7 separate regions of the Homo sapiens genome follow, and regions 2, 3, 4, 5, 6 and 7 are each reported to be linked to region 1. Evidence: microRNA targets listed by miRTarBase, many of them from high-throughput screens and not tested one by one. Region 1 holds a microRNA gene; each other region holds the end of a gene's coding sequence.
Evidence for each region. Region 1 holds the annotated microRNA hsa-miR-676-5p (UCUUCAACCUCAGGACUUGCA, at 1,205-1,225, opposite strand). A microRNA usually pairs through its seed, bases 2 to 8, with sites in the 3' UTR of a target mRNA and lowers its output. Matches are read on the target gene's strand: a 7mer-m8 pairs with bases 2 to 8, a 7mer-A1 pairs with bases 2 to 7 and ends in A, and an 8mer does both.

Region 2: the mRNA of LIMCH1 is a reported target of hsa-miR-676-5p. Seed matches in the 3' UTR shown: 7mer-A1 at 2,593-2,599.
Region 3: the mRNA of MFHAS1 is a reported target of hsa-miR-676-5p. Seed matches in the 3' UTR shown: 7mer-A1 at 1,629-1,635.
Region 4: the mRNA of ZNF573 is a reported target of hsa-miR-676-5p. The part of its 3' UTR that is shown has no 7-base or 8-base seed match.
Region 5: miRTarBase lists PGM3 as a target of hsa-miR-676-5p. Seed matches in the 3' UTR shown: 8mer at 2,975-2,982, 7mer-A1 at 2,954-2,960 and 7mer-A1 at 1,335-1,341.
Region 6: the mRNA of TREM1 is a reported target of hsa-miR-676-5p. Seed matches in the 3' UTR shown: 8mer at 1,338-1,345.
Region 7: the mRNA of ZNF749 is a reported target of hsa-miR-676-5p. The part of its 3' UTR that is shown has no 7-base or 8-base seed match.

Annotation. Positions count from the first base shown.
Region 1 is chrX:70,019,476-70,024,088 of GRCh38, reverse strand. It overlaps MIR676 (microRNA 676), which reads right to left and starts at 1,232; the gene lies at 1,166-1,232. It overlaps EDA (ectodysplasin A), which reads right to left. Exons shown (of 8, transcript NM_001399.5): 3 at 848-871.
Region 2 is chr4:41,696,314-41,700,926 of GRCh38, forward strand. LIMCH1 (LIM and calponin homology domains 1) reads left to right here. Exons shown (of 32, transcript NM_001330672.2): 32 at 847-3,731. The coding sequence ends at 872. Among named protein-coding and RNA genes, the nearest start is that of LIMCH1-AS1, 5.8 kb to the left of the region's middle.
Region 3 is chr8:8,782,781-8,787,393 of GRCh38, reverse strand. It overlaps MFHAS1 (multifunctional ROCO family signaling regulator 1), which reads left to right. Exons shown (of 3, transcript NM_004225.3): 3 at 1,339-4,040. The coding sequence ends at 1,372. Among named protein-coding and RNA genes, the nearest start is that of CLDN23, 83 kb to the right of the region's middle.
Region 4 is chr19:37,734,383-37,738,995 of GRCh38, reverse strand. It overlaps ZNF573 (zinc finger protein 573), which reads left to right. Exons shown (of 5, transcript NM_001172690.2): 5 at 1-694. The coding sequence ends at 504. Among named protein-coding and RNA genes, the nearest start is that of ZNF607, 17 kb to the right of the region's middle.
Region 5 is chr6:83,165,012-83,169,624 of GRCh38, forward strand. It overlaps PGM3 (phosphoglucomutase 3), which reads right to left. Exons shown (of 13, transcript NM_015599.3): 13 at 1-4,312. The coding sequence ends at 4,223. It overlaps DOP1A (DOP1 leucine zipper like protein A), which reads left to right. Exons shown (of 39, transcript NM_015018.4): 39 at 2,851-3,460. The coding sequence ends at 3,156. Among named protein-coding and RNA genes, the nearest start is that of PGM3, 26 kb to the right of the region's middle.
Region 6 is chr6:41,272,337-41,276,949 of GRCh38, reverse strand. TREM1 (triggering receptor expressed on myeloid cells 1) reads left to right here. Exons shown (of 4, transcript NM_018643.5): 4 at 720-3,345. The coding sequence ends at 825. Among named protein-coding and RNA genes, the nearest start is that of TREM1, 12 kb to the left of the region's middle.
Region 7 is chr19:57,444,948-57,449,560 of GRCh38, reverse strand. ZNF749 (zinc finger protein 749) reads right to left here. Exons shown (of 3, transcript NM_001023561.4): 3 at 2,460-4,613. The coding sequence ends at 4,076. Among named protein-coding and RNA genes, the nearest start is that of VN1R1, 9.9 kb to the left of the region's middle.

The DNA.
Region 1 (4,613 bases):
TGCTTTAACTAGTTTCATAATTGGTTCTTTCAGTCCTAAGAAGTAGACCATATTGCCTGGCCCTGTCTTTGGAGACTGTTCTGTCTTTGGATTGATTCTCCTCTTTTAGTAAGTGAGCACTTGTAGATGCCCTAGGGCCAGTTTCATTGCAAGTACACTGGGGACTTACTGACCCAACAACGGCACAATGGAAGCTGCTTTGAAAAGACTAAATGGTCAGGGTACTACTCCAGAATAGCTTTTTCATTACAGAGAAAATGATATTGAATCCTCAAAGCAAGAAATACCTTCCCTGACTCTTTGGGAAATCAAATCAGGGAAGCTTTAAGTCCAAGAAATAGGGTACTGACATCTTTTGATAGGTAGCGTATCTAGTTCCTACATGGTGACACAGGATTTCATTCACACTCAATCACTGATTTGATAAAGGAGGAAAAAAAGGATAAAAGCGAGTGCCTGTAATCCCAGCTACTCAGGAGGCTGAGGCAAGAGAATCGCTTGAACCCCAAAGGTGGAGGTTTCAGTGAGCTAAGATTGCATCATTACATTCCAGCCTGGGCAACAAGAGTGAAACTCCGTCTCAAAAAAAAAAAAAAAAAAAAAAAAAAAAGAATAAAAAGAAGGGCAGGGAGAAGAACAAGGAAGAATGAAAGAGGTGAATCATCACTGAAGAATGATTTCTTGTTCTTCAGAAACTACAATACTCAAGAAGATAACATATGATTGAATAAAATAACAGACAGACAATGCTGAAAGAATATAATACAAAAATCGCACTCTTGATTTTTTTCTTCTAACTTTAGAAAATATATGACAAGACAGCAATTTTATAAAGTCAGGAACTTACCCTTTTTCTTGTTTTTAACTGGGCCTATAAGAAAAATAAAATAGATAATTAAGTCATTGGAAATGAACAGAAAATGTTTATTTTCTAAGATAGTCACTAGGAGGGATCCCCAAGACACTGCAAATTTGAGGGAGTCTCACAGCCAAGGGTCAGGCTTTTGGCAAGGATCCAACTATCAAACCTCCCCATTCTGTCTTCTGACTCCTGAGGCCACAAAAGTTTCAAGGAAGATTCTTCCCTAGGGAGAAAAATCTCTCTACTTCAGTCTTTGGGGTGAGGGAATGGGTACTTCCCCATAGAGATGAAATGCCCAGAAATGCACAACTCAACAACCTTAGGACAGCATTCCATTAATTCTGCAAGTCCTGAGGTTGAAGAGTCATGCGTTCAGGTGAGAATCTGATATGAAGTCTCGTGTTGAACTTGGAAGGAGCAAAGGGTCATTTTCATGGAAAGAGCAGAGCAGCAGTGTTTAACTTTTAGTCACTTCCTTATCATGATTTAATTTGTTACTTATTAAAAGTTTGACCATAATACACTCTTGAGGGCCACATGCATTTCCATTGTAATTTACTATAAGTTAATGGACACTTTAAAAGAAATGTCGGCCGGGGGTGGTGGCTCACACCTGTAATCCCAGCACTTTGGGAGGCCGAGGCGGGTGGATCACGAGGTCAGGAGATCAAGACCATCCTGGCTAACACAGTGAAACCTCGTCTCTACTAAAAACACAAAAAATTAGCTGGGCGTGGTGGTGGGCGCCTGTAGTCCCAGCTACTTGGAAGGCTGAGCCAGGAGAATGGCGTGAACCTGGGAGGTGGAGCTTGCAGTGAACCAAGATCACGCTCTACACTCCAGCCTGGGTGACAGAGCGAGACTCCATCTCAAAAATAAATAAATAAATAAAATAAAATAAAATAAAATAAAATAAGACATGTCAACCATTTCATTGGCAGTGAAATCACAAGCATTTTATTGGAAATTACTTCTAAGGAAAATAATTCTAATCAATTGAAGGTACTTAGAAAACCCAAGGTGTTTCTAACATAGTTAGGTGACCGCAACTCCCCAAACAGTTTAGGTCGCTCCCAGACAGTCATTTTTTTTTTCCCTTCTAGGAAATAAATTCTCTTCATTCTGTATACGGATTTGACTTTCTTTAAATACAGGTATTTAAAATCTGTTCCAAACTGCCATGAAGACACAGTTATACATTAAACCACTGTCAGTGCCCTCAAGAGCTTACAAAAGGAACACCAAGCATTTCAATATTATAGTTTATAAAACATATTTCCATTTATCATCTCATTTGATATTTGCAACAAACGTGGAATGATCTCTAACTATAAGAGCAGGCCCTATTAGAGATCAGTAAAGTCTCTAACCTGGAGGGCTGCCAGAGTGGCCATCAGAGCTTTCACAGGTCCCTTGAAAAACCAATGTCTGTGTAGACTTTTCTGGCAAAGTAATTTCATGTGCAACAGTAGCTATTGTTATGTCCAGGGGATGTTTTAGATTGGAGCAACCTGCTGTACTTAAGGTCATGAATCTCAATTCTCTTTTCCTTCTCTCTTCTCCTCTCCTCTCCTCCCAGTTCTTTGTCTTCTTTCTTTGTTACCCATCCTTTATGAATTTTTTTTTTAACAGCATTGCGAGTTCTTGAAAATGTGCTTGGAAGTTCTGAGAGGAAAGCACAACTACATAGACATTAATGATATGAGGCAGCGACTCAACCTGAGAAACGCCTTTTTCTTGAACAAGAAAGCTGTTTGGGGAAAGATTTACACAGAAAGGGCTCAGCTCTATCAGCCAGCTAGCCACCACAGCCTAGGAGAGTAGTAGGAAGACAGCCATTATGGCTACCCTGCCCTCTTTGCAAAGGTGTGCTGGCCCGGACCAAGTTTTTGACCGTTTCAGCTGGTTAAGGGTAAGCACTGTTATATCAGACTTCAAAAGCAGACTTTGAAGAAATCAGGCCATCACCAGCCAACCAGTCCTTACAGAGTATGTGTATGGAAGGCAGTAAATAATGAAACGCAACTCACAACTCTACCTTCAAGAACTTACAGTTGAATAGGGAAATACAAAAGATGAGGGAGTGGCTTCAGGAATTATACTGGCCACTTAAGGGGAACAAATAGCTTCCTGGAGAAGGTCTGACTTAAATCCACAAGTGAAAAGAGAGAAATGGAAATTTTAAAATCTTTTTAAGCTTCTATTATTTTCATACAAAATATACCTACTCCTTACACATACATAAACGCATGCATACATACGTATATACATACAAAAGAGGAGCAAAAGGAAAAAGAGCTTATTAAAGCACCCCCAAATAATCACTACTAACATTTCATGCACATCTAGAAGTCTTCTATGTATATAAATAGGTATTTTTACAAAATGGGATCAGATGAAAAATGTCATTTGATAACCTTTTTTATGTCAATAACTACATTTTTACATTGTAATTTTTAATATGGATGCATCAGCGTTTAATCATCTTTGATAAATATTTAGATTGGGTCCAGTTTTTCACTATTATAAACAATGATGTACATTTATAAACAATGTATGTTTATAAGCAATTTATATGTACATTTTATAAACAATTTATATGTACATTTATAAACAATTTATATGTTATGTACATTTATAAACAATGATGTACTTTTTTTTTTTTTTTGAGACGGAGTCTCGCTCTGTCGCGCAGGCTGGAGTGTAGTGGTGCGATCTTGGCTCACTGCAAACTCTGCCTCCCGGGTTCACGCCATTCTCCTGTCTCAGCCTCCCGAGTAGCTGGGACTACAGGCACCCGCCACCACGCCCGGCTAATTTTTTGTATTTTTTTAGTAGAGATGGGGTTTCACTGTGTTAGCCAGGATGGTCTCTATCTCCTGACCTCGTGATCCGCCTGCCTCGGCCTCCCAAAGTGCTGGGATTACAGGCGTGAGCCACTGCACCCGGCCCCACATATGTACATTTTTATACACTTGTCCAAAGGTTTTTTAGGATGTGTCATTAGAAATGACACTGTTGGGTCAAAGGGTGTGAAAAGCTTTCCTTACATGTAGTTAAACCTAATAATCTTTTCCTATATGGTTACTGCCTTCAGTGTCATGCTTACTTAGGCCTTCCCTAATGTGATATTATAGGTAACTCTTTATATATTTTCTAGTTCTTTTATGGTTTCATTTTTATTTTTAAATCTACAATTAATCTGGTATAGATTTTGGCATACAGTGTAAGACAAAGAGTTAACTAAAATTTTTATATTTTTTCCCTAAAATGCCCATGACATGAAGAGTACCAACAGAAACAGGGCTCAAAGTCATTTCTTAAACTTTTATTTTAGTTTCTGGGGTACATGTGCAGGTTGGTCCTATAGATAAACTGTGTGTCACAGGGGTTTGGTGTATATATTATTTCATCACCCAGGTAATAAACGTAGTACCCAATAAGTAGTTTTTTGATCTTCACCCTCCTCCCACTCTCCACTCGCAAGAAGGCCCTGGTGTCTATTGTTCCCCTCTTTGTGTCCATATGTATTCAATGTGTAGCTCCCACTTATAAGTGAGAAGATGTAGCATTTGGTTTTCTGTCCCTGCATTAGTTTGCTTGGGATTACAGCCTCCAGGTCCATCCATGTTGCTGCAAAGAACATGATCTCATTCTTTTTTATGGCTGCATATTATTCCATGACATGTATGTACATTTTCTTTATCCAGTCTACTGTGCTGCATAGTATTCCATGACATGTACGTACATT
Region 2 (4,613 bases), not on the chromosome of region 1:
TCTGTTCCATCATTCACTCTTGTGAAACGCATTTAATGCAAACTCCCTGGGGTCTTTTCAAATGTTGCAATTGCCTCATCACAACTGTAGTGCCTAAAAAGGAGAAATCCTGTGAAGGTTTCAGCAGAAAATATGGAACCCAAACAATCCTTTCTAGATAGGTTTACCAGATAAAATATAAGATACCTAGTGGAATTTTTTTAAACCAAGTTAAAGTTGAATTTCACATAAACAATACATTTTTTAAGTCTGTGTATGTCCCAAATATTGCATGCTCTGGATTTAACATAAGTATGTCCCAAATATCATATGGATATGCTTATACTGAAAAATTCTGTGTCGTTTATCTGAAATTATACTGTACTGGGTATTGCGTATTTATACTTGCTGAATCTAGCAATCTAATTTCTAGATCATATGTCAAATTCCTCATATTACAATGTACTTATTCTTAGAGAAATCAAAACCTAAGGAAACTGAGAGAAAAGAGATTATTTTCTTGCTTATTTGCCCCAGAGGACAAGGTAGAAAACTTGATGGAGATGCTTTGGTTTAGGGGCAATCCAGAGCATTTGATCAAACTTCACAGTGCATGTGAATCACCTGGGCACCACGTTAAGTGGGTCTGGAATGCGGCTTAAGAGCCCGGATTTCAAACAGACTCCAGGTGATGCCAGTACTACTTGTCCTGGGGCCACACTTCAAGTAGCAGGATGGGAGAAGTTTCTGGTCCCCAGGAAGAGGAGACTTTGGTAAAGGCAGTTGCTCATTAGGGAGGTTTTAAAATGTCTGAAGCGAGAAATGTTGCCTACCACTCTTGTTTGTTGTTGTTTGTTTTAATCACAGGTGCCGGGCAGCCTACAACATTGTGACACGGCTTTCAAGCTTCCGGATCACTCACCATTTCTTTACTGAGAGTGTCCCCTGGCAACTGCTTAACAAAATCCCAAGCTCAGGGGCTTCTCAGCATTTACCTAATTTCTGAAAGGCTCTTCTGAAAGGTGGTATCTGTTCTTTCGTAGCACAGTGTTTATGTTTTTCCTGTTTATTGTTTTGGTTTTTTTTTTTTTTTTGCATTTGCACAGTATACACAAAAGAATATGGGGTTGTAATGATCCTGAATAGCTCAAAAAAGGTTTTAGCATGGTCAAACAGGCTTATGGTTTAAAATGTGTTATTCTCTTCTTTGGGAATTAGCTAAATGATGCAATAAACCTGTTTTGTTTTAGAATGTCTAGGAATTAAACACTTTATGTTTACAGAATTGAGCTGCAGAAAGTGCAAGACATGCCAATTTGAGACACACGGTCTTCTAAGACTGAAGGATAAATTTAATGCATTTCAGAAACTAAACATCACAGCAAGCTCTATCTCTGAGCTATAATTTGTTTTTAATGCAAAGACACTAGTTTGATAATATATACTGTAATCCTGAAACATTTGTGTTACTTACCTTTGGAGGTAGAAATTATACCAATAAATTATTGCACCGTTAGTATTAGATTCTGTGTACCTTGGAAGTTATGTCATTAATATAGGCTGGTTCATCAAATAAAGCAAAACCTTGCAATATCAGCTAGATTTACACTCCGGGACGTTGCCCAAAGGTAGGAAGAAAGCAGAGGGAAATATTTCAGTCATCATTTCCAAAGTCATTATCAAAATCTGTGAGGAAGTTTAATCTTCCAAAGAGTCAATGTCAGACATCAGGCCTCTGTTGCCTGCTTCTCTCGAGGCACTAGATTAGGAGTCTTCAATAAGAGACTTAACATGAGGTATATGGAAGATGAGGCACCGAGATAAGTTCATCATTAGGTGTGAGCACTGCTCACCCTTGCTGGCAAGTTCTCCTTAAGGGCCTGAAGCACAGGTGTCCAAAGAAAAGCGTTAAGTCCATCTTAATAGAATCTATGTGGTATATGATGTGGTCAGCCCCTGGTCTGTGATCAGCAAGAACCTACAGCACAGATTATGCCCTGCCCACTTCAATGAATACCTACTCTCCTCCATTCTCCATCACTTTTTTTGCTATCAAGAACTCCGGACCTTGCCCATGGAGAAGTTTAGAGAGGAACTCTTGTGGAGAGCTGGTTTATTTTCTGCCCTGTGCGACGAGTTTCAGCTGGCCAAGAAAGGAGTCAAGTTATTAAAAAGCATCACAATGTAGATCTCCAGGCTGGTTTTTTGTTTTTTGTTGTTAAGACTGGGGAAAGGGGGACTATTTATTCTGCCTTAAATCAATGGCAAATAAGTCAAGATGACATTTTGTGAATGTAGACTATGGATACACTCCTAATAGATTGATGTAGTCATAAAAGGGGGTCAAGTAGATGTTTTTCTGTTATGTAAGCAATAATTTTTCCGTGTCTTATTGAGTATGGCTAGCGATTATTTATTACATGCTAGATGGGTTCTTTGCATGTGGGTTCCATATAGGTGCAGAAATTTCCTCAGCCACTGGAGGGATTTCGACCATATTTGTCATTTGGATGAGCTGTTATTAGATTGAAATCTACACATCATTTCATTAAAAATTGTGCCTTAGAAAACGCAAAGCTGTTGCACATGGCGATAAATTATGGATGCAGTACATTGAAGAGAGATGAAGTCACTTCCAAGTTTCCAAGACTTCTCATGGAGGTGTTTGCTGTTTTACAGGAAAAAATAAAAATAAAAAAAGAAAAAAAGAAAAAATTAAAAAGAAAAATTGTTTTGAAAATGTACAGATCAAGTCCAATATTTTGATTATCCACCTGCATGTTTTATTAAATATTTTGATAATGTGGATGTTTACACTTTGCATGATATTAGCAGAGTACCACTAGTAATGCACAAACATGTACAATATGGTCATTCATAACCGATTTTTATAGAATACTTTTTACATGTGCAACTCCATCCGTTATGTAAGGATTACATGAATATTGCACATTCCCTTCTGGTTTCACAAACCCATTTATACATATTTCTTAGTGAGGCTCATTGTACATGTATTGAAGCTAGAATCGAGTCAAGAAAAATAAAGCCCCATTCTCCAACTGCAAAATGTGCTTTCCCATAATGAACACTAGTCACCAGCACAGAATAATCTCCAACATTTTCTAAATTCTAATTGCCAACTGTTTCTATTTATATTTGATTTATATTTCATTTGGAGTCTGTTACATGGCAGCTTAGGCAGACTAGATCTTGTTTTTTCCAATGCAGCATAATGAGTATGATCTATTTCTTTTCAAATAATCTTTGAGATCCCAGGAAAAAAAAAATGCTCTGCTCCATTGAGCTATAATGTAAATGTGTTTGTTTAAAAAACAGGTGAGGCAAGTGAGTGATTTATTGTTCCTGAGGAAGTATATCTGATTTTTTTTCTCATACTCCAAAAGCTAGTCCCTACTCTTTAATAAAAATAATGGGTAACTTTTTGTTTTTCACTAGCGAACTTCCATGACATTTCCTTTCTATGTAGTGTGATTAATGCAATACATATTATAGTTATCTATACACAGTGTAAGATTTAACAAACTGAAATGATCCACCTCATATGTGAGTCCGTCCAAAAGATGTTACTGCTCTGGGTGGGCCAGTGTTCTATATCGGTTATACTAACTTTCATTTAAAGTATTTATTCTAAAATGCCTCTGAGAAACAGTAAAAAATAAAAACAACAAGTTGTCTAAAATGCAACAGCTTTTATAGTAAATGTACATTTATAAATAAAATACTCAAATCAACTTTGTATTCCATTAATTATTTTTGGAGGGGTGGCAGTTGGTTTTCTTACATGGGGAAGAGAGACTCAAGCTTTCTCTTGTAGCTTTTGGTCCAGGGTTACATAGACAGATGATGGCAGTGCTGGATGTTTGCATGTACCTATTGATGCATAGTTGAGGTCAACTATTGAAGGCAAACCAAACTTACTGGCTGGTTTAGGGGTCACTGAGGAATTGCCTTCTATAGAAGGGTTTAAGCTCCTGGAGATGAGACACACAATAACCAGCAGAGGCCATGCAAATGCCAGTGAAACTCGTCTGAAACAACCAAATGATGGTCAGCTTGCAGCACTGGCTAGACAAAAAGCAAGGCAAACTTTTTTTTTCTTTTTCTTTTTTTTTTTTTGAGACAGGGTCTCACTCTGTTGCCCAGAATGGAGTGCAGTGGTGCAATCTCAGCTCACTGCAGCCTCGACCTCCTGGGCTCAGGTGATTCTCCCACTTCAGCTTCCCAAGTAGCTGGGATTACAGGCATGTGCCACCACACCCAGCTAGTTTTTTGTATTTTCACTAGAGACGGGTTTCTCCATGTTGCCCACGCTGGTCTTGAACTCCTGGGCTCAAGCAGTCCACCCGCGTCCATCTCTCAAAGTGCTGGGATTACAGGCATGAGCTACCGCACCCAGCCAAGGCAAACTTTTTGAAGTCCCTGTATTCTGCCACTTTCCCCAGCACTACCCCAATGTTCCCCACTTATTATATATGTAAGGTGTGTTTACTAAGGGCCTTTTCCTCAGGTGTGGAGCCAGGGAATCTGCTGTGAATCAGTAGCATCCTGCTGACACTGTTGGCTCTCTGAAGTATACACGTATTCTGCCTTGCACTCTGTTCCAAATTTGAAGG
Region 3 (4,613 bases), not on the chromosome of region 1:
TAGTAAGATGCTGAGGCCGGGCGCAGTGGCTCACACCTGTAATCCCAGTACTTTGGGAGGCCAAGGTGGGCGGATCATGAGGTCAGGAGATCAAGATCATCCTGGCTAACATGGTGAAACCCCATCTCTACTAAAAATGCAAAAAATTAGCCGCGTGTGGTGGCGGGCACATGTAGTCCTAGCTACTCGGGAGGCTGAGGCAGGAGAATGGCATGAACCCAGGAGGCGGAGCTTGCAGTGAGCCGAGATTGCGCCACTGCACTCCAGCCTGGGCAACAGAGCGAGACTCTGTCTCAAAAAAAAAAAAATAATAATAATACTGAGTAAGATGGAGCTTACATGGTGGGATTATTAGGAGTTGAAGATAAATAATGCACTAGAGTGAACAACCTAATTCCTGGCATGTAGTTAGTAAATGAGAGGTTTTTGGTTTTTTTGTTTTGTTTTGTTTTGTTTTGCTTTGCTTTGCTTTGTTTTGGTGATGTCGTTATTATCATGCTTGAATGAGCCCATGACTGAATCTTGTATGGACTGGAGAAGTGTTTAGGCAGATGCTGAATTATCAGTGTCCATGAAATCAGCGTCTCTCCTAATGAGAGATGGGGGATTGGAGGAAACGAATCGTAACTCCTTTTTCCTTTCCTTTCAATGTCTTTGTATATTTTATTAAAAGTTGCTAAAAAAAAAAAACCACTTTCAAAAACATCCCATCACATGTCATTGTAGGGAAGCAAAAATGAGAAAAACACTTGATATTTTTTCCTCTAACCATTTTATCGGAACTGAATCCCGCTTTATTTGCTGAGGCTGCAGTAGTTTATTCATTCTATATTGATCAGACTCCAGATTTGCGTGGACAACTTAACTTATAACATTTTAAGTAAAATCATGCATTTTAGGCAGACAGACATCTCACTTTTTAGTATATATTCCTTCTTCTAGAGGATTATTTGGTGTGTGTCTGCGTGTGACCGTGTGTGTTTATTGAAAGGAAACAGTTCCGTGTTTAGAGTTTTGGGTTGTTAGTTAGAGGTCTAGTTAAGCTATAAAATTACAGTGGAATAAGTGATGACAGCCAGTTAGTACAGTTCCCTCTTATAGCTGAACTGAGCTTAACACACCAACAGAAATGTTTGGCAAATAGACTGCTAAAATGACTCTTTCCTTTGTGGGGACATAAGTTGCCTGACATTTACATGTTTATAATGAGTCCTGGAAGTAGAAATGAAAATATGTGCAGAAAATAGATTTCTATCATCACTTCCTTTTCTTATTGAGGGTAGCATTGTCCAGTACGTTTTTGTCATCTCTGTGCTTTCTTGTTGTCCACCCATACAGGAAGAATGTTGGTGAAAAGCACAGAAACCAGTGACGTTTGTGGCTGTGGAATTTCCATGGAGAAAAGAGAGCATCTGAACACCTGGACCATCTTTTGCACCTGGCAGACCCTCTGCACTCACCCCAGCGTGTTCTGTGAACTTGAGTGACAACGCGTGCTTGCAGGGTGCTTTTTGGACGACTGGGGAAGAGGTGGGGAGGGGGTGGTGGGGGGAAGCATGGACGAGAACATGGAGCAAATGTTTTACAACCTGAACCTCAGAACTGTGATCCTCCAAGGAGCGCGCTACTTGAAGAAAAGAAAAAAAAAAAAAAAAAGTCGAATGGCTTCTCAGGGATTTTGTTTTCCGTGCACATATAAGCCATAGTTACAGTACAGGTGGCAGTATTTAGAGCACTCAGATTTCAGTTCTGTTAAATGTGAAAGAGGGATCGACTGACGTTCATTGCTGTTCCATAACTAGTGTAAAATATGTATATGTTTATCTTTATTTTTATAATATGCAAATACATTTAAATTTATACAGTTTGAAGCTTCTAGCGTTAGTTCACACTGGGTGCAATATTCTGCATGAGAACTGTGCCAAGATGGGGCTGATTTCTTATTTTAGTATAAGACTTTTTTGTTTTTTCTTTATTCTTTAATCCTCTTCACATTAAAAAAAAAATCTCTCTGTTAGCCCATGGATTAAGTGTTGGTTCATAGAGATTGCCAATAATCAGAAAGAACCTTAAATGTGCATTTAAGACAGTGTCCCTTCCCTTCTTTTCAATGAAGGTCCCTGCCTATATAAATCATCTGGCACGCTGGTGGGAAATCCTTTGCTCTTCCAACGTGTTATTAGTGCTGGGCAGAGATGGGGCACACTCAGGGGCCAAAGAGGACAAAAAGTCCATGCAAAACTTGAGTCTTTTAATGGCTTAAGATAATCAGGAGTCAGTTCTGAATCTTACAAAGTGCTCTGCTTAATAAGTACCTTACTTAGCAGAGCACTTTGCAAACATATTACTTATTAGCAGAGCTCTTTGTAGACCTTCCACATCTGGCTGTCAGATCTTAAGGTTGTGAATTTAGGCTCCAGTTACATTCACTGGAGAGCATAATCCCACACGGGTTATTTATAAATACAGAGCCTCTGATTGGACGGTCTCCTGCCAAGAACTAGTAATACCCTTGTTTTAAAATCTTCACAAGGTAAAACTTAAAAAGCCAACCAAACAAATTGCTCTCCATTCTACTTTTAATTGGGCCAAACAGCATATGCTACAGTAGTAACATGTTTTTCGGAGAGTGTAAAAAACTCTGTTTACATTTGCCTCCTCCGTGGGTTGATCGAAAATGTATAAAACTGACTGCTTCTCGCCAGCCTCAGACAAGAAGAGTGAGTTGCTGGTACTCGCTACTCTTTTACTTCTTTTGTAAAGTATTGACTCTTGGAAGGCTACAGTATACAAAGTCTCAACATGTTTTTTAAAAGAAATAAGGAGCAAGCGACTGCCCTGCTAGAAATCACAAACCGATTTTTGTAGAATATTTTGTGCCCCAGGCATTAATTTCACTGACTCCAGAACCTGCAGTTCAGAGAATGATTTCTTATGATGATAAAAATCGAATGGGATCAGACGATGTTTGCATTTTTTTAATACTTGAATAGGACACCTCAAGTTTGAGATTTCATTTTCTTTTAGAACACAGTCACAAGATTAATCTGGTGAATCCTTTTGTCACAGTTCTCGTGTGTGTGTGCGCGTCTCCGTGTGTGTGTGTGTGCATGTGTGTAAAACTGAATGGTCACATTTAATTGCTTTTTGGACCATTGAATAGTTGGGAAGTAAGAATTTTTTAATTGGCATGAGACGGTTCCTCAACTGTTAAATTAACCAACTTTGACCTGTCTTTAGAAAAAGGCTTATTTGTATGATTTTGGGCTAACTCCCCGGGGACCATATTAAATGACAAAAATGCTCCTTTGGGTGACACACCCTACAAAGTATTTGCTGTTACGAACATAAACGCCCACATTCTTAATATCTAATATTTTTGACCAGTGATGTTTTATGCTGTCATCTGAACCCTAGAGAAGCAGTGTCAGAGGAAACCTTGGTGTCACATGTGTCTTAGCAAAAGGGTTACCATGATCGAGGGTCATGTGACCAAAAGATGCTCCAGAGAAGCTTGAGAATTTGTTTCAAGTTGGGAGGAGGGTTGGAGATACAAAAATCACTCTGCTCTACAGGACTCTTCAGCTGTCTATGCAAGAAATTCCGTTTTCTCTTTCAGCACCTGGAAAGACACAGCAGCCCACCGAGGCGATAGGTGATTCACTAAGCACAAGAGGAATGTTTTCTAAGCAAGGCGTCCCTTGCCTCTCAAACAAATGCCCTCCAAGTTTGTTAGGGTTTCTATTCCTGCAACTTGTGGTATCAAAACCACTTCCTGGAATTGTCAAAGCACTGCCAAAATAAATGTTTTTCCCCCTTCTAAGAAAAAAAAAATGACAGTGCTCATATTTGACACTTGTGTATTGGACTCTCTTTTGAATGAATAAAAAGGAAAAGGGGTTTGGTGTAATTCCTGATGGGGTGCGTGTTGTTTTTCATGCCATGGTTTGTGAATTTTAATTGTGGTTTCCCATTTCGTTGTTGTAACTGGGCAGAAATTAAAAAAGAAAAATCAATAAAAATACAAAGAAATGGTTAAACAGTTGTATTCCCAGAACTTAATTATTTCAGATTTTGTTCATTTGTTTTTACTTTTAATTCTATCAGTTAAGGAATGACTTTTATAGTTTTAGTCCTTAGTGGTACTGTTGGAGCTGTGGGAGGTGGGTGGTGGTAGCTCTCATCTGTTTGGTCTCCGAAGAGAAAACTAAAGAATCCCTGTTTTAAAACTGCCTCTGTTTTCAGGCTGAGGATATAACTTGAAGATCAGCTCTCTTAAATCAGAATCTTTTTTTTTTTTTCAATGATCCACTATATTCCTAAGTCACAGCTGTTGAATTTATGGTAGCTTTGGAAGTTCCCCTGATCTTTCTTTCAAAGGCTCTTAGCAGAAGTCCTGCTACATACTGCCTCAGGGTGCCCTATTTGCAAACTGGAAGAGCAGGCCCCTCAGGTACCCATCAGAGGATTTAGTACTCCATATTGTTTAAATAAAGGCAAAGAGAAGATAAGGAAGGACCAAAGCCAGGGTGTTAACGTGGTGAATCCATAACGGGTCTGCAGCAACCTCAATTCTTGCCTCCTCAGAAGAAAGAATTCAAGCGAGGGGCATA
Region 4 (4,613 bases), not on the chromosome of region 1:
AAATGTAAGGAATGTGGCAAGACCTTTAGCTTGCATGGATATCTTAATCAACATCAGAAAATTCATACTGGTATGAAACCCTATGAATGTAAGGTATGTAGAAAAACCTTTACTTTCTATAGAAATCTTACTCTACATCAAAGTATTCATACTGATGAGAAACCTTTTGAATGTAAGGAATGTGGGAAGACCTTTAGACGTAGTTCACACCTTACTGCACATCAGAGCATTCATGCTGATAAAAAACCCTATGAATGTAAAGAATGTGGAAAGGCCTTTAAAATGTATGGCTACCTTACCCAACATCAGAAAATTCATACTGGTGGAAAACCTTATGAATGTAAAGAATGTGGGAAGGCCTTCAGTCGTGCTTCAAACCTTGTTCAACATGAGAGAATTCATACTGGTGAGAAACCCTATGTGTGTAAGCAGTGTGGGAAAACCTTCAGATATGGTTCAGCCCTTAAAGCCCATCAGAGAATTCATAGGAGCATAAAAGTGTAAGACCGTAAAGAGTACGAGCGCGCCATTCATCATCAGACAGCCCACACTGGTGAGAAATGATGGAATGTTAGTCTTATAGGTATGGCTTTAGCAATTGAGAGAGTTCAAAATGCAGATCTTGCCACATTAGAAAGCATTCAATGTCAGTCCTGTTTTAATGGAATATCTGACTATTCAATGGTAAATTAAGAAAAAAAAAAAAAAAAACAGGAATCCCAGTTTCTTCATGCCTACAACATCCATGGCATGGATTTTTTTTTAAAAAAACTTAATAATTAAGGCTGGGCGCGGTGGTTTGCCTGTAATCCCAGCACTTTGAGAGGCCAAGGTGGGCGGATCACGAGGTCAGGAGATAGAGACCATCCTGGCTAACACGATGAAACCCCGTCTCTACTAAAAATACAAAAAATTAGCTGGGCGTGGTGGCAGGCGCCTGCAATCCCAGCTACTCGGGAGGCTGAGGCAGGAGAATAGCGTGAACCCGGGAGGCAGAGCTTGCAGTGAGCAGAGATCGCGCCACTGCACTCCAGCCTGGGCAACAGAGTGAGACTCCGTCTCAAAAGAAAAAAAAAAAAAACTTATTAATTAAAAGGATGACCAAAAGCCTTTCATACTAGATTTCAATGGCTGTATTACAAATTACCCCAAGCCTTAATGTCTTACCACAACAATAAACATCACTCATAGGTTCTGAGGGTCAGAAATTCGGAAGAGGCTTAACTGAGTGCTTTTGAATTGGTCTTTCCATGAGCTTGCAGTCTTCTGAAGGCTCCTTGGGGCGGAAGGATCTGTTTTCCAGGTGGCTTGCTCACACTGGCAGGCTGGCTTAGACAGTGAGAGTGCCAGGAGAAAGCTGTGACTTTGGAGCCGTTTTTTGTTTGTTTGTTTGTCTGTTTTTGTTTTTGTCTTTGTTTTTTGAGACAGGGTCTTGCTCTATCACCCAGGCTGGAGTGCAGAGGCATGCTCATAGCTCACTGCAGCTTTCAACTTCTGGGCTCAAGCAATTTGGGTGGCTTCTTGAGCATATTTTGCATGACGTAGAAATATAAGCAATTTGTACTCAGAATGCCAGTCGTGGTGTTTTAAAAATATGTCCTCAAATTCTTGAAACTCTACCCTTCAAACTTGAAGTCTGGCCAGGCACGGTGACTCACGCCTGTAATCCCAGCACTTTGGGAGACCGAGGCCTAGCCAGGCGTGATGGCACACGCCTGTAGTCCCAGCTACTAGGGAGGCTGAGGCAGGAGAATCGCTTGAACTTGGGAGGCGGAGGCTGCAGTGAGCTGAGATCGTGCCTCTGCACTCCAGCCTGGGCAACAGCATGAGACTCCGTCTCAAAAACACAAACAGCAAATAAAAAAACCTGAAGTCCAATTCCCTTCCCTTTGCATGTGAGCTGAACCTAGATGAACAGAATCTTCAGGATCACCTTTCCCTGGTGCTCATGCTCACTTGTTCATTCACTCTCGTGCAAATCCGGCCTCCTCTACCTAGGGCTTCTGCAGAGGCTGCTGACAGAGCCATTTATAGAAGTTTCATTGAATGGTGATTCTCATAATTGTCACATTAGATATTGCTGGAGTCTTAACCAAGGGTTTTTAACAGTCATACTCTATCTGTTCTTTGGAGAACAGATAACCTGCCTGTGAAGTGCCCACTCTGCTCCCTCTCTGAAATAATCATTGTGTTAATGTTGAGGCCATGCTTCCTATGGGCTGCCCCCAGCTCCTTTTCTGAGCATAACATAAGTATTCATGCTAGTCAATTCTTACGAAACCCAGACCCTTCAGCTGGGGAACTGTGAATCAGCCAGGCTGAAACTGTTTTCATACTGCCCCGCGTTTTCATAGTTTTTCTACCAATCTTGCTTCATCCCTCTCCTTCAGAGTCATCCATCTTGTACCATGGCCTGAAGGCTTTCACTGCCTTTCCTGGACCTCTTTTTCATTCATAGCCCCCTCCTTCCTTCTGATCTGATCTTGCTTTTTGCTTTTCAGAGGATCAAAATGAACACATACCCTAAGGTTACCTACATACTATGTTTCCCTAACAGCACTCTGGATTTTATCTTTGTCCAGAGACTATTTCTGAAGTTTAGCATCATTTGCTTTCTGGAGAGGCTGGGAGTTTCCAAAAGCAAGTCCTGGTTCACTTCTGTTTAACAGTCTTTTTCTAGCTTATCTCACTTCTAGCACTTAAGCAACAAGAAGCAAGACACCTTCAACATTCTGCTTGGGAGTTTCCTAAGCTAAATTACCCACTTTTTTTGTTGCTGTTGTTTGTTTGTTTTTGTTTCTTAAAGACACAATCTTGCTTTGCCACCCAAGTTGGAGTGCAGTGGTGTGATCATAGCTCACTACAACCTTGAACTCCCGGGCTCAAGTGATCCGCCCATCTCAGCCTCAGGAGTAGCTAGGACTACAGGTGTATGCACAACTACATCTAGCTAATTCTTTTTTTTTTTTTTTTTTTGGTAGAGATGAAGTCTCCCTATGTTGCCTGAGCTGGTCTCAAACTCTTGATCCTCCTACCTTGACCTCCCAAAGTGCTGGGATTATAGCACGAGCCTGGGCCAGTTACACAGTTCTGTAGGTATTATTTTGTACTTTTCACAGTAACCACGTGCAGCCATGTTGCTTTCTGCTGTTGCATAACAAGAATCCCTTCCCCCTAGTCTCCAGTAACATTTTTCAGTTTTCTTTAAGCCCTCACTAGGAGCTCCTCAAAAATATCCAGGTTTCTGCTAATAATATTTTCCAGGCACTTCCAATTTCCACCCAGTTTGTGGTCCCAATGCCCCTCTGACATTTGTAGCTTTTTGTTTCAATAGCATCCCTTGTCTAGGTACCAAAATCTGTTATCTCATGCCACATTCCAAAGAACCTGAAGAATTAGTGGCTTAAAATGCCAATAAATGTGTATTTTTCTCACAGTTTCTGTGAGTCAGAAATTTGGGAGCAGCTAAGCTAGGCAGTTCTAGCTCCAAGTGTCTCAAGAGGTTGTGCTTATCTAAAGGCTTGACTATAGCTGTAGGATATGCTTTCAAATGGCTTAGTTCTGTGGCTGATAAGTTTATACTGGCAAGTCGTTTCTTCTCCCAAGGGGCCTTGTCCATAAGCTGCTTGAGTGTGCTTGTGACGTGACAGATGTGATCCTTTTTATAATCTCTCTTTGGAAGTTAGTTCTGCCACGTTCTGTTTGTTCCCAGAAAATCACTAAGTCTGGCCTACATTCAGTAAGAGAGGAATTAAGTTTCACCTTTTTTTTTTGAAGGCAGGATCTTTCACTGTCGTCCAGTGGAGTGCATATGGCTAACTTCAGCCTCAACCTCCTGGGCTTCAGTGATCCTCCTGCTTCAGCTTCCCGAGTAGCTGGGACTACAGGTGTGCGTCACCATGCCCAGCTAATTTTTAAATTTTTTGTAGAGATGGGGGTCTCACCAACTTGCCCAGGCTTGTCTCAAACTCCTAAGCTCAAGCAGTCTTCCCACAGTGTTCCCAAAGTGCTGAGATTATAGGCGTGAACCACTGTGCCCAGCCCACTTTCACTTTTTAAAGAGAGAAATGTCAAAACATTTGCAGACATATTTTTATTTTTAAATCGCCACACCTGACACCACTCAATCATTGTTGAAGTCTCAAAAATTAGTACTAATAAACTAACTTGTTAATGTCACATATGCAATAGTGCTTTTAGCCATGGCACATGCCTTACCTGTCATCACTGCCACATAACTCCCTGTGTGTCATTGGCCAAGATATTTATCATCTATGGGAATTATTTGCAAAGTATAATCAAGAGCCTACATGAAACCCAGGCATGGTGGCGCACACCTGTAGTCCCAGCTACTCGGGAGACTGAGGCGGGAGGATCGCTTGAGGCAAGAGTGTAAGCCTGCAGTGCTCTATGATGGTGCCTGTGAATAGCCACTGCACACCAGCCTGGCTTTTTTAGGCCCCATCTAAAAAGAAAAAAGGTACATAAGAGTCCTATTATGCGGATGTGGCCGAAATTATACTTGTCAAAACCTGGGAAGACTGTTTGGCATATAGCGTTATGCTCAATAAATATGAGCTATTGGCCGGGCGCAGTGGCTTACGCCTGTAATC
Region 5 (4,613 bases), not on the chromosome of region 1:
ATAGGAATAGAAACAAAAGGTTACCCCATAGTTCTCTTACATTTGGAAGTTAGCTATATAGAGGGTACAAGGATATTCATTTTCCTTCAGGACAAAGTCATCTCTGTACGCCCTTTATTGTTGAATTGCAGTTTGATTTAGGGGATTAGAGGTGGTATGGTACCAGTAATTGAGTAATGGTGGAAATGTGAAAGTCAGTCACAGGACTCTCATTGGTGCCAGTGTCATAGTTAAGAAAGAAAGAAAGAAAGTTTTATATATCCTGTAATCTAGACTGGAAGCTAAATAATTGCTAGGAAGCAAACTTAAGTGATAGCTGTTAAGTTTTTTGGTTTGTTTTTGACCAGAGATGATGAAGTAGGTGATCTTTTCTTGGTTTGCTCCTAGACTCTTCCATTTTAACTTATATTTTTAGTTTGGTGCAAAAGTAATTGCTGTTTGGGACCATGAATTTTAAGTCATTATAACTAGGTTCACACAAATCTTTATTAATTAAAATAGGAACCATTACAATCAACACATTTTTGCCAATGAGAAATAAGTTTGTTTACTCCTGTAGCATAAAAATCCATGCTTCCAAATTTGACGAACTCTTGGAAAGCATTTTCTGTGTCCTGCTAGTTGTGGAAGCAATTTCCCTGCAAAACGTTGCTGAGATGCCTAAAGAAGTGGTAGTTTGTTGGCAAGAGGTCAGGTGAATATGGCAGATGAGGCAAAACTTCATAGCCCAATTAGTTCAATTTTCGAAGCGTTGGTTGTGCAACGTGCGGCCCAGTGTTGTCGTGAAAAGAATTGGGCCCTTTCTGGTGGCCAATGCCGGCTGCAGGCATTGCAGTTTTTGGTGCATCTCATTGATTTGCTGAGCATACTTATCAGATGTAATGGTTTCACCTGGATTCAGAAAGCTGTAGTGGATCAGACTGGCAGCAAACCACCAAACAATGACCATGACCATTTTTTGGAGCAAGTTTGGCTTTGGGAAGTGCTTTGGAGCTTCTTTCAGTCCAGCCACTGAGCTGGTCATCGCCAGTTGTCGTATAAAATCCACCTTTTGGCACACATCACAATCCGATAGAGAAATGATTCATTATTGTTGCATAGAATAGAGAAAATGACACTTCAAAACAACGAATTTTTTTATTTTTCACTCAGCTCATGAGGCACCCATTTATTGAGCTTTTTCACCTTTTCAATTTGCTTCAAATGCCGAACGACCATAAAATGGTCAACATTGAGTTCTTGGGCAGCTCTCTTATAGTTGTAAGAGGATCAGCTTCGATGATGTTCTCAATTGGTCATTATCAATTTCCGATGACTGGCCACTGCACTCCTCATCTTCAAGGCTCTAGTCTCCTTTGCAAAACTTCTTGAGCCATCACGGCACTGTATGTTCATTAGCAGTTCCTGGGCCAAATGCATTGTTGATGTTGTGTGTTGTCTCTGCTGCTTTATAACCTATTTTGAACTCAGAAAATCGCTAAATTTGATTTTTGTCTAACATCATTTCCATAGTCTAAAATAAATATAAACAGCAATAAGTCATTAGCAAAAAAAAAGTGAGAAATATGCTTAAAATGATGTATAACATAACCACATTTATTTAAGAATGTACTCCAATATAAAACGGCAAATTTCAACAATGCAAAAACCGCAATTACGTTTGCACCAACCTAATATTTTCCTTTTTCAGGATTTTACTTTAAAATAAGCAATAAGCTTGAGAGCACATAGAAGAAAATAAGCTGGATTTTGCATCTGCTTGACCCACTAGGAAACTAGTGATATTAAATTATTAGGTAAACAATGAAAGTTTCTGAGCAACATCTGATCTTAGAAGGCAAACTCCATTTGTTAATATGACAGATTGTAATTCTGCTTCCTAAGTCTTCATGATTTCTTCCTTCTGTCTAGTTCATTGCTTATTTTCATTCTTTAGTGTGGAATTGTATCTGTGATTCTGCCCAAGTTCAACCAACCTGTTCTCTCTTATCTTTCTCTAGACAGAATGATGTCTGTAGCTGTGTTTGTGTAATTCAGGTGGCTTCTCAAACTAGCCTCTTAATACCCAAATTATTAGTCTTTATATTTAGTTGACAGAGTTTTCACATACCTTCTCATTTGACTTCTCTACTAAAAGGTAGTTTTAGACTGTCCCATTTTATAAGTGAGGAACCTTTGTATATCCTGCCCAAGGGTGCCGTAAGTATGGCAGAGCCAGCACACTAACTCAATTCCTTTGACTCCAGGTCCAGCTTTCCTCCCTATGTTGTTTAGCACAACCCAGAAGGAGACAGCAGTGTCTCCTGAGGGATCCCTTCCTTTCTCTGTGATGCAGTACTGACAGTAATTATTCACTTTGGACACTGCTACCATCATGGCAAATTTAGGCCATTTAGATAAAAGGGAATTAACTAATTATAATAAAAGGGGATATATTATGAAATGTATAAAGCACTTTGTTCCTTTTTTCTGTAGTAATTTTGTGACCTAGTCCTTGGTTACAGTAGTGAGGGTTCAGAAACCTGGGAGCTTTTTGAGTAAATACAAAGCACAACATAAAACTTTTATGTTTGACTCTATTCCTGTTCAAAGCTATTTCTGTTAACTAAGCTTATCTGCGCATTCTAGTTGGGAACTATTACTACAATGTTAGACTGCTCCATGTAAAACTAATAAATGGCAGTAAAAGGTCTCAGAAGCACCAAGGGTTTTGATCAGGTCAGGAGTTAGAAACTTAATGTCATTTGTATTCATTTCTTGACCAATTGCCAAAGTTTATATATTTTTAATTTTTCTAACATACCACATTGTCTGTTGTATTAATACCAGTTCACTTTTTGTTTTCTGCAGAAAAATCCAGAGGAAGACAACTCAGGGAGAACATTGGGTTGGGAGCCAGGGCACTTGCTGCTCACCATCTGCACCGTGCGCAGTATGGAGCAGCTCCTGCCGTTCTTCAATGTGCTCAGTCAAGTCTTCAACAGCAAAGTCACAAGCCGATGTGGAGGACACTCAGGGAGTCCTATCCTCTACTCAAATGCCTTCCCTAATAAGGACATGAAACTGGAGAACCACAAACCATGTTCCAGCAAAGCCAGGCAAAAAATAGAAGAGATGGTAGAAAAAGATTTTCTGGAAGGGATGATAAAAACTTGAGCACCATTGCTGGTTCCATTTAGCTTACATGTAAATGTAATTATTTAAAACACACACACTGCTCTGCGTTGTATAGTTTTTCCTTTTTTGTATGTAACAGAACACATTTCAGATTGTATTTAATTTAAATATTTGTATATAAGAGCAAATGTCTGAATGTGGCCTGAATCAAGTTTAAATATTGTTGGCTCATACTGATTATGGTGCCTAAGAGAGCTATATATATACACATGTAAAGTCCATTGTTTTTATTGTCCTGAGTTGTCTTAAACCTGCAAAATATACACTACCCATTTTTTTTTTCCATTGGTTTCAGACTTGGTTCAATTAAGATTGGTTGGGGATTTTTCTCTTTTCCTTATTAACCATGTTCTGGTATCAGAATGGTGTTCCTTCTCCATCAGAGGCTGGGAAACGTATTATAATTAGTTTTTCTCCCACATACCTTCACCAAGAGCAGTGAAGAATAACTGAAGGCTGGACCATGCATCCTTAAAAGTATTGCATGAGCATCTCCACCTCAGTATGGAAGAGGGATGGACAACCCCCTATTCATACCTCTGAGTTCCTGATGGCATTAGTCATATAGGTAAGTCATCTAATAATCTTTCTTAAGACTCTGCAATGGAAAAACTGGTTGTATAAAGTCTTCTCTGCCCTCTCCATTTGTATCAGCAATGGGGAATGCTGCAAAACATCATCTTGCTCATGTGATGGTGATGGCAAAGATATCACAAGGAGTTGGTAATAAGATTTAATTTTCCAGTAGCCTGCATGAATTGTTCCCCACATAAAACTGTACAGTTAGTGACTGAATTGTATACTTAAGTCCCAGTATTTTACATTAGTGAGACTGAAATTAGAGGTAAATTTCTTTAACAAGTGTAAGGCTTACCTATTTATAAAGAATTATTCTGTTAGTGTTTAAGAAAAACAGATCTAGAGACAATCCAGTAGGCTGCATTGTAAACATTATGATTATAAATCTCTTAGTACTGCCATTATTATTGACAGTTTTGTAAAGACTTGTAAAAAGTCCAGTTTCTCAGGAATATGAAAATTATCTTCAGAAACCTGGTTGGGGCCTTTCTCCAATTCCTCCAGCCAGCTGAAATACTGCCAAGCTCACTTCATGTGCAAGGTGATCTGCACTTTCCTGCAAATTACATTAAAAGAGATTAGATGAGAAAGACATAGCATGTGTCTAACATGGGCAAGACCATGTTACTTGGAACTCTGGGGAAGAGAGGGGTGATTCTTGATTTTGTTTCACTAACAAATTCTAATGAAAACCTTTTTTCATCTTTCAGTAACAAATTCCAAAGCCCTTAAATAAACGGAAAACAGACCAAATTCTTCTAAATAAGGTAAGTTTTTAATCAATTCAGATTATAAAAATAGCTATCATTCCACAACTGAAAAAATTCAATAAAACTTTAATCCACAATTGGCCTAAC
Region 6 (4,613 bases), not on the chromosome of region 1:
CCTGCCTCTCCAAGTAGCTGGGACCATGGGTGCATGCTACCACGTCCGGCTTATCCACTGGACCTCTGATTTCCTTAGACATTATGTTCCTGCATAGCACTGGCTCTGCATCTGGCCTTTGTGTTCCATTGCCATCTGTCTGTCCCTGTGTCTTACCATGCCACATCCTTGTGCTCTCATCTGCTTGCATGTCTGCTGATGGAACTGGCCAAGTGCCCTCACTCCTTTGCATCTTTTTATTATGATACCTATTGATGTTTACCCAGAAACCTTAGAATCATTTCGCCAAAATCTATAAAATTCATGATGAGATTTTCACTACGGGTGGATTCTTCTCGGTTTATAGGTGAGGAAACCGAGCTAAAGAGGTGAGATGACCATCCCAGTAGGCAGGGTACGGTACTGAGAATAGAGAGCGGGTTTCCTGGCCAGAGTCCTCTCTCCCTACCACATCACAGGGAGGAGGATGGGCTGATCAGCCCGACTGTCTCCCTCCAGTGCCTCTCCTGGACAGGGACCTATACTCTCCACTGAATTGTTTCTAATCAGTAGTTTTTGGCAATGAGACAGACTGAAAAGCACAGGGTCAGGCAGTGCGGGAAAGGTGGAGCAAGGATCTAAGCAGAGGAGAGTGGGACATGAAGGCATTTTCTAGAGGGAACATGTGCGTGTGGGAGAGACTTTGCCAGCAGTAGCGTTCAGCCTCTTGTCTCCCGCAGGGTTCCGGTGTTCAACATTGTCATTCTCCTGGCTGGTGGATTCCTGAGTAAGAGCCTGGTCTTCTCTGTCCTGTTTGCTGTCACGCTGAGGTCATTTGTACCCTAGGCCCACGAACCCACGAGAATGTCCTCTGACTTCCAGCCACATCCATCTGGCAGTTGTGCCAAGGGAGGAGGGAGGAGGTAAAAGGCAGGGAGTTAATAACATGAATTAAATCTGTAATCACCGGCTATTTCTAAAGTCAGCGTCTCACCTTCCTGCCCACTGCCCTCGTTCCTCTAATAATCTTGGGTGGGCATTTGTGCCTCAGAAAAGAAGTTACAGCCCCAAACATGCTTGGTCCTTCATTCCACCAGCCACTTGGGGTTGGCATGAAATACAGACAGCTCAATGCTTTTCACCGTAATTCTCTTGTGGGGGCTGTGACATGCAGAAGGCACACCTGATACTTCTCCTGCTCAGTTTTGCCCTGGACCATACAATTTTGGCCTGACCTGGACAGAGCTCCCACTACAGAAGCATCCTGCTCGCCCCATGCTGGGACTTCCTCTTTCTAGCATCAGACACTTGGGTTTCATGCTTATGTGTGGTTCTTTCCAACACTCCCAGAAAAGGGTGTTGAAGATTGTGGAACCTGGAGAAATAAGACATCGTGGTGAGAAAGTGCATCCTTCTCAGAGAAAAGAGTTAAACTGAGTATCTTCTTCTGGGGAAATACTGGCAGGCCGAGATGGGATCCATAGGAGAGCAACAACAGACCATGTCAGACATCCTGTGTGCATTTATCGCTGGATCCTGAAAATAGCCCCGTGAAGGCAGAAATGTATGTGACTAGAACGAGGCCACATGAATAAGCCACTGCCCACTGGCAGGAGTGAAAACTGAAGCGCTCCTTACCTGAAGGACCCCAAAACCATATAGAATAGAATAACCAGGAGTTCCGCCTGTGTCTAAATGCCTCTTTTCCTGTATCACACAAGGGTCAGGGATGGTGGAGTAAAAGCTCTCCCCCTGGGAGGCTTCTGGAGGCTGTCCCCATGTGCTTGCCTAGTTCCCCACTCTGCCCTCCTCCTCTTCTCTCAGTCTGCTCCTGGAACACCTGCCTCAGTTTCCATGCTCTCTCCAGTGCCCTCCCCGGTGAAGCAGGTAGGTGTTCAGGCCACCACAGAGACAATCTCTGTGGGAGATTGTCTTGCAATCTCCCACAGATTTCAATCAGGATTTTGTTATTTCCTACTTTGAGCTTTAAAGGGAAATGGGCCTCATGGGTGGGGAAAGGATGGTGGGTCCTTCCAGCCCAATTTAGTGATGCCCAGGGCAGATATTATCCTCAGTTCCCAAGAGCAATCATACTTTTCCACACATACCGTGTGTCTCATGTTAGGTAAATGTATTTTTACAATGAGCACCACTTCTGTGGAAAAAGTTCCCTGCACGGGGAGGTCCAGCTTCCAGACTGCTCCATCGCATAAGGACTTCCCCATTCCCCTAAATGCTGCTCTGTCAGAACCTGCCCAGGTAATGGTAATGACCCTAGAGAGATGATTTCTGAACCGCAATTTTGAGCCCATTAGAAGGTGTGTGGTGGGCATTTATTTCATCCTGATGCTCTGGTGAGAATCTTTGCAGACGCACTAGATCCAGAAGCTGTTAATCTTGGTGCATTTATTTTCCTACCTAAAAGAACCAAGCAGCTCAGAGGCAGTGACTGTACAGGATGCAGTGTTTATAATAATGCTGAGCTTGCTGGTCTGGAACCCCACACTTTAGCAATCCCAGCATTGTTCCTGTTTATGAAGTTGACAAAGTGACCAGGGCAAGGGGGTATTATCATTAAATACACTCTAGGAGAGGCAGAACACATGAGGGCAATGTTTTTCAGAGGTCTTTAGGCCACCGCATCAGATTCTCCTGGAGCATAAAGCAAATGCTTTATGAGTCCAGGGCCCCTGCAGACCTACTGTATACTAGTATACAGCTCCCTCTTAGTGGATCTCAAGCTTGTTTCCAAAAAGTCATTACACTCCTTACCAAAGCCCATGACACATTCATACAGATTCATCCAGACATAACCCACTGCATGGTCCAGTGCATGCTTGTGTGCTTAACTTATTATAGATCAAGTGTTATTTAAGTCCAACATATTAAACGTGACTGAAATATTATATGCACTAAATCGGAAGACAAATGGCCGTGCTGGATACTCTCCCATTTGCACTTACAGGCCACGCCATGCTCCATCCTCCCCATCCTGCCTGGGAACCTGACCAATGTGGCTAAACCAGCAGGCTCCCTGGCTGCCAGCTTCTGGCTGGTTGAGCCAATGGGAAGCATGAGAGGAGAGCCGAGGGTGGGGAGACAGTCAGATCAGGGTTTCTGTCCTCAGGGCTCCCTCCCTGGCAGGTGGTGGCAGGAGTGGCTGCATTCCCCTCTGAAGGCTCCTTCAAGCCTCTCAGCAAACAGCTCCCATCTCCAAGTCCAGCCACCTGTTCCATCCTCTCCTCTGTAGGCCCAGCAGTGGGAATGACCCACCACTATTGCCAGCCTCAGCATACTGAAGCACCCCTTACTGGATTCCCTAAATTCTATGCACATGTTTATTAAATGCTCCTCAATTACCCAGTTTCAATGAGCCAGCGGTGTCTTGCTGTTATCTTGACTGATACAATAGTGTTGTGTGGCTAACGACACAGGTCTTGGAGGAAAACCATGTATGGGTTTGAATCTAGCTCTGCATCCTTGCAGGGTGTCTGATCCTGGGTGACTCAGTTAACCTTCTGGGCTTCAATATTCCTCCTTGCCTTAATGGGCATGATAGTGCCTAACCATGCCAGTGATGATTTTGGATGCTAACAACAGAATCCAACTCTGGCTATCTAAAACAGCAAGGGAATTCTAGGGGGATATCAGTAACTCAGAGTTGATGAGAGGCTGGGGGATTGGGTTTAGAAAATGGGCAGAAGCCAAGAGAGAATGGACAGCAGAGGCCACATGAGACAGTCTGGACATGTTGCCATCAATGCCACTGCCCTGGATACTGGAGGCCACCATGCTATTCCTAGACTCTGAATCCTTAAATTGCCTCTGAGTAAGTAATCTGCAACTGGCCCTGCATTTGAGCCTCATCCGCAGATCTGGGGTCCTGGGCAGAATCATGCATGTGGCCAGGCTTAGGTCAAGTCACGTGCCTGCAGCACAGCTGCCGGGAGAAGGGTGGGAGGAATAGCTGCTTCCATCCTCAATAGAAGGGGAAGCAGAACTCTGCATCTGGTGAAACTCACACATTGGGGCCTGTGCCCCCAAAAGAAAAAGGTGTTTGGTACTGGAGAGTCAAAAGATGACACACCTCCATTATACCATCTCCCAATGTTGACAGGATCCAAGGAGACGCCTGAGTAAAGCACCTGACACACAGTAGGACTTCAATCCATGGTGGTTACTGCTATTACTGTTATAACTGGGGTCTCCATGCCTGTGCCTGGACAGGTTAGCTCAGGGAAGCCCATACCTGGTACTCAGGCAAAGCCCCTGAGTCACCGAGACATGCTGCAGGGTCCATCTTACCTATATGCAGCTCTTGCAGACATGGTCAACTTGGACTCCTTGCCTCAGAACCACCTAAGCTGTTGCTAAAATACAGATTCCTGGGTCCCTTCCCAGATCTGCCAAGTCAGAATATCTGGTGGTGGAGCCTGGGTGTGTATGTCTGCCACACTTCCTGAGTGAAGCCACGTGCCTGTCCTTGGGAACCATGGTGCGGGGTGATATTAAAGAGGGAGGATGTAGCAGAAAGGCTTGAACCCGGCCTTGGGGGATGAACAATGTTTGTTTGCGCAGCACCATTTCACAGGGAGACTGGGGTGCAGGCTTGCGGGTTGTAGGGGTCAGTGGTC
Region 7 (4,613 bases), not on the chromosome of region 1:
GTGGAATAAAGAGGCCAGACGGAAGTCCTCATACTTATGCTCAGATTTTTGACAAGAGCGCAAAAACTTATTAAGGAGTCTTTTCAACAAATGACTTTCAAAAAGCTGGATATCTATATGCAAAAGAATGAAGTTGAACTCTTACCTTCCTCCATTTACTAAAACAAACTGAAATAAATCAGACATAAAAGTACAACTTAAAACTATAAAACTCCTAGAAAATAACATGAAAAAAGGTTCATGACACTGGATTTAGCAATAATTTCTTGGGTATAATACCAAAAGCATAGGAAACAAACATAACATATATTGGACTCCATTGAAATTTGAAAACTCCTGTGCAAAAAAAAAAAAAAAAGACATGAACAGAATGAAAAGGAAGCAGACTGAATGGTAGACAGTATTTGAAAAACACATATCTGCAAGGGGTTAATATTTAAAATACGTATACAGAATATGTACATATATAATACGTACATGTTAACCACTCAACAAAGTATATATACTTCACATCATGTTGTACACAACAAAAGCATACAATGTTATCTGAAAATTTACAAAAACTTTCTTCAATGGGCAAAGACATTTAACAGATATTTCTCCAAAGAACCTATACAATTAGTCAACAAGCAAATGAAAAGATGCTCAACACCAATACTGAAATGCAAATTAAAAAACCATAATAAAATAACATCTTACACCCATCATGATTAAAAAACAAAGTGTTGGCAATAATGTGAAAAACTAGAACCCCTGCACTGGTGAGAATGTAAAATGGTGCAGCTGCTATGGAAAATAATTCCCCCCACAATTTAAAATAGAATTAACGGGAAGTGGCCAGGCGTGGTGGCTCACGCCTGTAATCCCAGCACTTTGGGAGGCTGAGGCGGATGGATCACAAAGTCAGGAAGATCAAGACCATCCTGGCTAACACGGTGAAACCCCGTCTCTACTAAAAATACAAAAAATTAGCCGGGCGTGGTGGCGGGCACCTGTAGTCCCAGCTACTTGGGAGGCTGAGGCAGGAGAATGGCGTGAACCCGGGAGGCGGAGCTTGCAGTGAGCCGAGATTGTGCCACTGAACTCCAGCCTGGGTGACAGAGCAAGACTCCGTCTCAAAATAATAATAATAATTATTATTATTATAATTATTATTATTAACGGGAAGCACCATTTCCACTTCTGGGTATATGTCCAAGAAGAATTTAAAGCAGGGCCTCAGGAGGTATTTGTATATTCATGCTCATAGTGGCATTAACAAGAACAGAAGAGTGGAAGCAACCCAAATGTACACTGAAGAAAGAATACAGGAAAAGTGGCATATACATATACCACAGTCATATGCCACACATTTCTGTCTACCATGGACCACATGTATAACAGTAATCCCGTATTATAACAGAGCTAAACAACTCCTATCACCTAGTGCCACCACAGCCACTGTAACTCAATCCCATTACTCAAGTGTGTGTGGTGACACTGGTGTAAACAAACCTACTGGTCTGCCAGTCATATAAAGAGCACAGGCCGGGCGCTGTGGCTCATGCCTGTAATCCCAGCACTTTGGGAGGCCGAGATGGGCGGATCATGAGGTCAGGAGTTGGAGACCAGCCTGGCCAACATAGTGAAACCCCATCTCTACTAAAAATACAAAAAATTAGCCGGGCATGCTGGTGGGCACCTGTAATCCTAGCTACTCGGGAGGCTGAGGCAGGAGAATCGCTTGTACCCGGGAGGCGGAGGTTGCAGTGAGCCAAGATCACACCACTACACACCAGCCCAGGCAACAGTGCAAGACTCTGTCTCAAAAAAAAAATAAAGCCAGGCGCGGTGGCTCATGCCTGTCATCCCAGCACTCTGGGAGGCTGAGGCGGGCGAATCATGAGGTCAGGAGTTCGAGACCAGCCTGGCCAACATAGTGAAACGCCATCTCTACTAAAAATACAAAAAATTAGCTGAGCGTGGTGGCAGGCACCTGTAATCCTAGCTACTCGGGAGGCTGAAGCAGGAGAATCACTTGAACCCAGGAGGCAGAGGTTGCAGTGAGCCGAGATTGTGCCACTGCACTCCAGCCTGGCAACAGTGCGAGACTCTGTCTCAAAAAAAAAAAAAAAAAAAAAGTGTGAGGCAAGGCTTCAGAAAATATTCCAGAATATTGTTATCATAGGAGATAACAACTCCCTGTTATTGAGCCTGAAAACCTTCTAGTGGGACAAGATGTGGAGGCAAAAGACAGTGATATTAATGATCCTCACCCTCTGTAGGCCTTGACTAATGTGTGTGTCTGTGTCTTCATTTTTAACTTATTTTTTACGAAGTTAAAAAATTAAATAGAAAAAGTTTATAGAATATAAAGGAGTACTTCTATACAGGCTGTATAATGTGTTTGTGTTTTAAGCTATTATTACAAAAGAGTCAAAAAGCTTTTTAAAATTTTAAAAGTTCATGAAGTAAAAACGTTACAGTAGACTAAGGTTAATTTATTACTAAAGAAAAAATTAATTTAGAGTAGCCTAAGTGTACAATGTTTATAACATCTACAATAGGGTACAGTAATGTCCTAGAGCTTCACATTCACTCACAACTCACTCCCTGACTCAACCAGAGGGGTCCCGCAAGCTTCGTTCATGTTAGTGCCCTATAAAGTTTTTACCATTTTTCATACATTTTTACAGTACCTTTTGGAAACTTAGATATGTTTAGATACACATTTACTTATCATTGTGTTTCAATTACCTACAATATTCAATACTGTAACATGCTGTTAAGGTTTATATCTGAGGCGCAATGGACCATATCATATAGCCTAGGTGCGTAATAGGCTGTGCCCTTCAGGTTTGTGTAAGTACACTCTTTGTTCACACAATGACAAAATCACCTTAAGATGATTACTCAGAACACAGTCCTCTTGTTAGGCGACACATGACTACAATGGGATTTTATTCGGCCTTTAAAAAAGATGAAAATCATAAGCTATGCTACAACATGGATAAACCTTGAAGACATTTAGGGAAATAAGCCTCAAAATAAGTCACAAAAGACTAAAACTTAAGTTTCCTCATATGAGATATTTATAGTAAAATTCATACAGTAGTATTGTCAGGGGCTGGTTGGCGTAGGGAATGAGGAAGAGGAGTAGTTTAAAGCAGCGGTCCCCAACCTCTTTGGCACCAGGGACTGGTTTCATGGAAGCCAATTTTTCCACGCATCAGGGACAGAGGAGGGGGCAGACAGTTTCAGAATAAAACTGTCCCACCTCAGATCATCAGGTATTAGTTAGATTCTCATAAGGAGCACACAACCTAGATCCCTCACAGGCACAGTTCACAATAGGGCTCAGGCTGCTATGAGAATCTAATGCTGCTCATCTGACAGGAGGTGAAGCTCAGGTAGTGATGCTGGCCCGGTTCCTAACAGGCCACAGACTGGTACCAGTTTGCAGCCTGGGGGTTGTGGACCCCTGGTTTAAAGGGTATAATGTTTTAGTTTCATTAAGTTGAAAAAACTTCTGGATATTAATTGACAACAATGCGAATGACTTAACACTACTGAACAGTACAGTTAAATATGGGTTAAGATGGTAGATTTTAAGTTACCTGTAATTTGCCACAATTATAATTTTTTTCTTTTTGAGACAGAGTCTCGCCCTGTCACCCAGGCTGGAGTGCAATGGAACAATCTCAGTTCACTGCAACCTCCGCCTCCCAGGTTCAAGTGATGCTCCCTGCCTCAGTCCCCTGAATAGCTGGGATTACAGGCACCTGCCACCATGCCCAGCTAATTTTTGTATTTTTAGTAGAGATGGGGCTTCACCATGTTGGCCCGGCTGGTCTCAAACTCCTGACCTCAGGTGATCCACCCACCTCTGCCTCCCAAAGTGCTGGGATTACAGGCGTGAGCCACCACGCCTGGACATAAATGTTTTTAATGTAGTTCCCAGCAGGAAATCCTCGCAGATTTCCATCTGAACTCTTTCAACATTAGATTTACATATATTAATAGGTTCTTGGTCCGATGTGAACCTTTTGGTGCTGAATGAGGTGACAGTTTTGGTGACTTTCCTGCATTCACTCCACTAAGGCCTTTTTCCAGTATGAATTATCTGATGTTTAATGAGGCTGGAGTTGTATTTAAACACTTTGCTGGATTCACCACACTCATAAGACCTTTCTCCAGTGTGAGTTTTTTGGCGCTGACCAGTATTACATTTGTTGAAGTCTTTCCCACATTCCCTTAACTTAAAAGGACTTTCTCCAGTGTGAGACTGCTGATGTATAATAAGGCTCGATTTAGTCCTAAACAATTCCCTACATTTACTGCACTCATGAGGCTTCTCCCCAGTGCAAACTTTATGATGTTTAATGAATGTAGAGCGGTATCTAAGAAACTTCCCACAGTTGCTGCATTCATAAGGCTTTTCTCCAGTATGAACTCTCTGATGAATAATGAGTTTGTAGCTATCTCTAAAAAATTTCCCACATTCACTACACTCATAAGGTCTTTCTCCAGTGTGAACTTTCTGATGTCTACTCAGTGTACAGCGATATCTAAAGAATTTCCCACATTTGCTGCATTTATAAGGCTTTTCTCCAGTGTGAATTCTCTGATGAATA